Homo sapiens: one gene and its partner. The protein of the gene in region 2 interacts with the protein of the main gene of each other region in a pairwise test. Each region holds a gene or a part of one and is shown on either strand. Other genes may lie near its edges. The genes, in order: NCK1 and BRPF3.

Region 1 (3,820 bases), on a different chromosome or scaffold from region 2:
GGCTGGTTTCGATCTCCTGACCTCGTGATCCACCCACCGCTGTCTCCCAAAGTGCTGGGATTACAGGTGTGAGCCCCTGTGCCCAGCCTCTCTTTAGCATTTCTTAGCACAGGTCTGGTAGTGATGAATTCCTTTAGTTTTTGTTTATCTGGGAATGTCTTATGTTCTCCTTCATTTTTGAAGGACAGTTTTGCTAAATATAGAATTCTTTGTTGGCTCTTTTGCTTTCAGCATCAGATCAGATTCTATCCCCTCCCCAGGGCTTATTACTGCTGCTTATTGTGAGTGGTTGTTGTTTGCTTGTTTAGTGACTTTACTAAACTACTTTTATAAGCTCTATATTCCTGGTCATGTGGGGCCGCTGAAGTCTATTCCATTTGCTTAGTAATCAGCTAGGGTTTTAACAGAGTTTCGTTAAACACCTGGAGCCAAAAGAAAAAACAAACAAACAAAAGAAAACCTCTCCCCATCTTTACAGATGGCTTTATGTTGGGGCAGTTTTTGACCACTTAGTGATGCCATTTATAATTCTGCCTTAGCCTTTGCTTACTGTTTGCTCAAAGCCTGAAGATCAGCCAGGGTGAAAGCTTAGGGTCTTCTTGGGCCTTTCCTGAATGTGCATCCAGCCCTGGCCATGTGCACGTCCTTCTTGATTGGTATACACACCCCTTATTACCCCATGTATATTCTTTCCCATCCCCTTTCTGTCCAGGCTTTTCCATCTGTCTGTTCCTTGTCCCAGTTGTTGTCCCTTGCCCCAGGCTGCTGCATCCATTAAATGATTTTTGCAAAAACCACCCAGGAAGACTCCCTATGCCTGGGAATGATTCAAGTCAGGCAAAGCCAAGGCAAGCCATTGCTCAGGTCCTTCAGGGAGCTGCCAGACAAGTTGAAACCCACAATCACAATTGTTTAAGAATGAGATCTGTATTGCTTCCTCTGGCATTAGGAGTGCAGGTTACTGTCCACACAGCCATCACTGACTTGGGGTGTGGGGGATGGTGGGCAGGCAACTTAGGATGCGATAGCACTCTCTTTACCACAAAGCAGCAACTTCTTTCTTTACCAAGCCTTGCCCTAGATTTTATAAGTTTTTTTTTTTTACTAGATTCCAGAGTTCTGCAAAAGTTGAGTCTGACAGTATTTACCAGCTCATTAATTGCATTCATTGCTTTTTGCAGGGACAGTGCCTTGGAGTTCCTTACTCTACTATTTTTGGTGGTATCACCCCAAATGTAGGGATTTCTCTGAAGGCTATCATTAACCGGAAGTAAGAAAATTAGGAAGGAAGAAGTTGATTTAGGGGTATAGACTGGATTATTTTTATTTGGACATGAGTGTTGGGTTTGAGGTACTGATGGCACAATCTGTGGGTGTCTAGTGACAGTTGGAATTGTAATGCCTGAATTCCAGAAAGGTCTTAGAGCTGCAAAGAGATCTGGGAACCTTCTGCACAGAAATTATAGAAAATGAAAGTGTATGATTTCCTTGGAATAGAGAGGAAGGTCAAGTATGTCATCTTGTGAAACACTTTCAGCTAAGGAATTCTTCATTTATTCATTCAGCATGTTTGCTGACTGCTGAATACATAATTTTGTTTTTCCTTTGTTCCTACTACTGATGTATGTACTGCTAAGCGTTGGAGACAGAAACGAATAAGATCTCGTTTTCTGCCCTCAGGAAGTTCACTCATATTGAGGAAGACAGACAAGTAAACAAGTACAATGCAGTGTTATAATAACAAGGTTAGAGGAGCCTAGACAGAGGTAAACAAGAATATGTAAACAGGTTGGGAGGGAAAATAAGAAATTCGGGGAAGTCAAAGAAGAAGAAAACATAATGGAGAGAGTGGGCTGTGATCTTGGTTGCTGCATATAGAGTTTGAGAAGGCTGAGGACTTTAAAAGTTACTGATTTGACAGTAAGGAGAGATGACATAAGAATGGTATTCATAAGAATGGTTTTAATTGAGTAGTTTTGTTAGAATGTTGGAGACAAAGGATCAGATAATAAAGAGTTGGGAGTGTGAGTGGTGAAAAAGTCGAGGGAAAAGGAAAAACAACCTTTTTTTTTTTTTTTTTTTTTTTTTGAGACAGAGTCTTGCCCTGTCGCCAGGCTGGAGTATAGTGACGTGATCTTGGCTCACTGCAACCTCCGCCTGCCAGGTTCAAACGATTCTCCTGCCTCAGCCTCCTGAGTAGCTGGGACTACAGGTGCACACCACTGCACCCAGCTAATTTTTGTATTTTTAGTAGAGACGGGGTTTCACCATGTTTGGCCAGGATGGTCTCGATCTCTTGAGCTTGTGATCTGCCCGCCTCAGCCTCCCAGAATGCTGGGATTACTGGCATGAGCCACCGTGCCCAGCCGGGAAAGACAACTTTTAAAAGAGTGGTATAGTTTATTCTATAGGAAAATTGGACCAGTTAGAGAAAAAATAAATAAATTACCAAAATGTTACGGTTTAAAAGTTGTAGCAGAGTTAAAGTAACTTCATTTTGGAGTAGAAAAGATATGAGTGTGTTTTTAGACAATTGAAGGGACTAAATAGGAAGGAAAACAAGGATGTCGAGAGTCCCAAGAGAGTCAGGAAAGATAGTATTAAGATCCTAGAAGGATCAGGATTTGGAGACTTGAGTGAAGAACGAGAGTGAGGATAATGAGAGTTTTGAGACAAAAGGAATTTGAGAAGTTTTACCTAGGGAAGCCTCAGTTTTCTAGGTAAAGTAGAGCATAAAATCACACGCTAAGAAATGGGCAGCAGTGAAAATGCCTGACTGAAGTTGATGTAGCGTACATTTGTATTGATAGTACCATTTGGTGATTTTCTCATTTCTTTCAACACATATGTGTTAAGCATTTACTGTGTACTAAGCACTATACAAGATCCTTGGGATTCTATCTGTAAACAAACAAAACTCCCTGTCCTTTTGGAGGTTACATATGACTGGGGTAAGGGGAGAAAAACAAATAATATTTTAAAATAAACATATGAGGTAAATAGAGCTACCTGGGTCTGGGAACCAAGAAAGCAAATGGGAAGATTAGCCAGACATAACTGCAATTTTATATTGCATATCATATTCTGATTTAAGATAGAAATAATTTTATTTTTATACAGCTCATTGTAGAATCTAGCTTGCTTAAACTAAGACAAGAAGAGTATGGGTGTGGTGGAGCCTTTGTGTACTTAGATTGTAGCTATGAAAGAAATCTATATTTACATTTAAGAGGGAATTCATTAATTTAGGACAACTTTATAATTATGTTATATAGTTATTTCAGGGCCTTTGACAAGAGAAAAGATGGTGAACTGTCATATAATAACAAATTAAATATTTATTTGGTTAAGAAAAAGAAAATTTGCATCTTATTTCCAAAAAGATGATTTTTAACTACATAGAAATTTGTTATATTTAAAAGCTTTAAAGATCTATATAGAGTTGAAGATCTCTTTTTAATAATGAATAAGTTCATTCTTTTGGTAATCATTTTTTTATATTCTCCTCTCATGGCCCTTTTTAATTTCAACAGGCATTGGAAAAGTGAAAAGAAAACCTAGTGTGCCAGATTCTGCATCTCCTGCTGATGATAGTTTTGTTGACCCAGGGGAACGTCTCTATGACCTCAACATGCCCGCTTATGTGAAATTTAACTACATGGCTGAGAGAGAGGATGAATTATCATTGATAAAGGGGACAAAGGTGATCGTCATGGAGAAATGCAGTGATGGGTGGTGGCGTGGTAGCTACAATGGACAAGTTGGATGGTTCCCTTCAAACTATGTAACTGAAGAAGGTGACAGTCCTTTGGGTGACCAT
Region 2 (3,093 bases):
CCTGCCCTTACAGGTAGCTGGAAGTGACGAAGGAGTGGGGCCCCCGGACTCTGCTCAGGTGGATCATCGCACGGTCATAGGCCACCTGCACTGACTTGCGGATGCTGGTCTTGCGGCCTTCCAGCATCTTGAGCTTGTCCACGGTGTCTTCCACACCCAAGGGCAGGACTTTGTCCCTTGGAAGCCACTGCCTGAAATGCAAGCACAGTAAGAGGCTGGGCAGTAGTGGGTCTCACAGGGGGCTCGGGCTCCTGTGGCCCCACTTGGCCAGGACCAGCAAAGCCAGGGAGAGGGTACAGGGCAGAGGGAAGCAAATTGGGGGACTCCATGCAGGAGGCCACCAAGAACCTAGCAGGTGAGGACAGCAAGCAGGATATGCAGGAGTCGGGTGGGGGAATGGCATGGAATCAATTTTGCAGCTAGGTCCTTCTCTGGGCCCTTACTCTGTTTGGAGAGTTGTAAGGGTCCATAGGCTAAGAAAGGCCCACCTGCTGCCCTCTGGGGCCAGCTGAGCCACCCTGGAGGGCTCTGAGCCTCGCCTTGCGTTGGAGAATTAGGGGGCGATGGCTAGGAAGTAGAGCTGATGCCAGGAACTGATAAACTCATCTGTGGTGGGACCTGCACACTGTGTATGTGTTTTTAAAGCTCCCCGGGTGAATATAACATGTGGCTAAGGATACAGCCTTTGGAGCAAGATCTTGTTTTGTATCTTAGTTCTGGCTACAGGGTCTGGACTTTCTGAGCCTCAACTTCCTCATCTGCAAAATGGATTATGAGGGGATTAATGAAGACTTAAATGAGGATTAAAAGAGATCAGATATATAAAGCAATCTGCATAAGGACATGGAGTAAGCACTCAATGGCAGCTACTATTATCACTGTTTTTATTAGCTAGTTCTCCCTCCTCACTCTATAGAAGCTAAGGTGAAAGCACTCTCTTGTTGGTGCTAAGAGAAACCTTAAGTGTTGTAAACCATAAATGAGCAAGTCTCCTGTAGCGGACACTGCACTGGCCAGAACCCCCCTCAGGACGGAAACATGCTTCCCAGAAGCTACTGGAAGTGCTGGAAGCTCACAGGCTCTCATCTGAGTCCCTCTCTAGGAATCACTCTCCACCATGGAAGCCTCAGGCCCAGGCCACACCCCTCCCTCAGGGCAGTGGCATTGAATAACTAGTTGGCACAGGGCAAAAAGGCACAGGCCCAATTCCTGACATCTCTTATCTTGTTGAGCCACCCAGCTCCAGATGTGCCCAGTGGATGAGCTGAGGCAGCAAGTGGGCTGTAGTTCAACTTCTGCCCAGTGCTGCATCGCTCCCGCCCCACAGCTCTCCTCAATAGCCTCCTGATGCAAGTCTCGACCTCAGAGTGTTTCCCAGGGAATCTGATCTGCAACACCCCTCAGTTACTATTAACATGCCAAGTGCAGGCCTGTTGCTGGCAAGTGGAGACCAGGGTAACTGGTAACATCCATGGCCCCTCTGTACACCTCACTAGCACAGCACCACTGGCACAGACCCCTGGCGTGCCCCTCAGCCCCCTCACAGCAGCACCCACTAACCAGGTGCGCTTGTTGTCAAAGAAGAGGACAAGGAAGAGCTTCTCTCCAGCCTCTGCCTGTTTCTGCTCTCCCAGCTTCAGCACGTCCAGCGGGGGGACAGGGATGGGAACGCCATTGTGCAGGAGGCCCTCCCGGGGCATCTTGGGATCGATGATCTGGAGGCAGAATAGAAGATGGGCACTCAGTGAGGGAGGCCAGGGTGAGCAGTGCCCCTGCTGCAGGACCAACTGCTGAAGCACCCACACCAGGGGAGTATCAGGCCTGAGTGGGATATCTTTGATGTCCAGACCAGACAGGCAAACCCCTTCCTCCAATGTCCCTTAGGACAGAAGAGTAGAGGTCACTTTTTTTTTCCTGTCAATTTCCCCTTAGTACCTTTGCAATTCACCTCAAATGTTTGGGGGCCTTCCCTAGGTACCACGGCTATGAAGAAGGCTTTGCATCGGGAAGGCCATCCAGTTGGTTCTAACGAGGTCTCTGGTTACCCACTACCTTCCTGTCTGACTACAATCCTTCCTGATACATGGACCAGATATATTTGTGACACCTCCATGGTAAGATCAGAGAGGAGGCTCAGTGTATAGCTAGAGAATGAGCTTGGAGGTTGATGGAGAGGGGGGTATGATGTGGGTGGAAACAAGGGCCACTGGAGGCATTAATCCTTGAGGCAATAAGCTCCACAAGGGCAGCAGCTGGGCCCTTCTCCTTCAGGTTTGCTTCTGGCATCCAGCCCCACCTTGCCTGGCTCAGAGACGGCAGGTGCTCAGCAAAATGCCTGGCAGCATCAACACAACAATCAAAATCCAGGTCTAGGGAGCACTTTCAAAGTTTCCAAAGCTCCTAATTATTCACACATCATCTCATTTCAATCTCTTGCTGATGCTGAGAAGTCTGCTAACAGGTGTTAGCTGACAAGAGGAAAACACCAAGCACAGAAGCAGAATGTAGCTGGCTAAAACCACATTGGTACTAAAACCAAACAAGGCTTGGGCCTCCACAGCCCACTGCCTCCTACACAGCCCCTGCTTCCAGAGCAGACAGCTAATAGCTCTGGGAGCAAAGACTAGGAACTTACTGAGGAAGCAGCCTTCTCCAGAGACAGAGCAATCTTACTTCCTATACGCTGTCCCAGTGGGCCCCTTCTTACAATAAACTGCTCTCATTATTTACCTTTGCTTGTCTGCCAATTTCACTACATCCCTCTCAAGATAAGCAGCTGAAAGCAGCTGTTCTGGTTAGGAGTTTACTCTAAGGAAGAACCACCTTACCCCACCCACCAGGTGTGTAATTTGATCAAAACTCTCTCTCCCAGCCTGTCTGTCCCTCCTGGGATTGAAGTAAAGGGTCTTAAGGAGAACCACCATACAAGCCCTTGTAAGCTTCCTTGATTACCAAACAAGACAGTGAGGCTACTCTGATATGTTTCCTCTTGACTAAGGCATGCTGGTTCCTGCCTTGGAACCCAGGGTGCTTGCAGAGGGTAGATTGTGAAAAATTTCCCCTGAGGGCAAAAGCAAGGTGGGTAAGTCTGCC

Evidence for each region.
Region 1: the proteins of BRPF3 (region 2) and NCK1 interact in binary tests that used the Homo sapiens proteins (3 or more experiments, as listed by UniProt).

Annotation. Positions count from the first base shown.
Region 1 is NC_000003.12:136,942,050-136,945,869, forward strand, and holds part of NCK1 (SH2/SH3 adapter protein NCK1), read left to right. Parts: intron 1-3,533; coding exon 3,534-3,820. UniProt on the Homo sapiens protein: Adapter protein which associates with tyrosine-phosphorylated growth factor receptors, such as KDR and PDGFRB, or their cellular substrates. Maintains low levels of EIF2S1 phosphorylation by promoting its dephosphorylation by PP1.
Region 2 is NC_000006.12:36,227,524-36,230,616, reverse strand, and holds part of BRPF3 (bromodomain and PHD finger-containing protein 3), read right to left. Parts: intron 1,716-3,093; coding exon 1,561-1,715; intron 759-1,560; coding exon of another isoform or gene 758-758; exon of another isoform or gene 192-757; coding exon 8-191; 3' UTR 1-7. UniProt on the Homo sapiens protein: Scaffold subunit of various histone acetyltransferase (HAT) complexes, such as the MOZ/MORF and HBO1 complexes, which have a histone H3 acetyltransferase activity.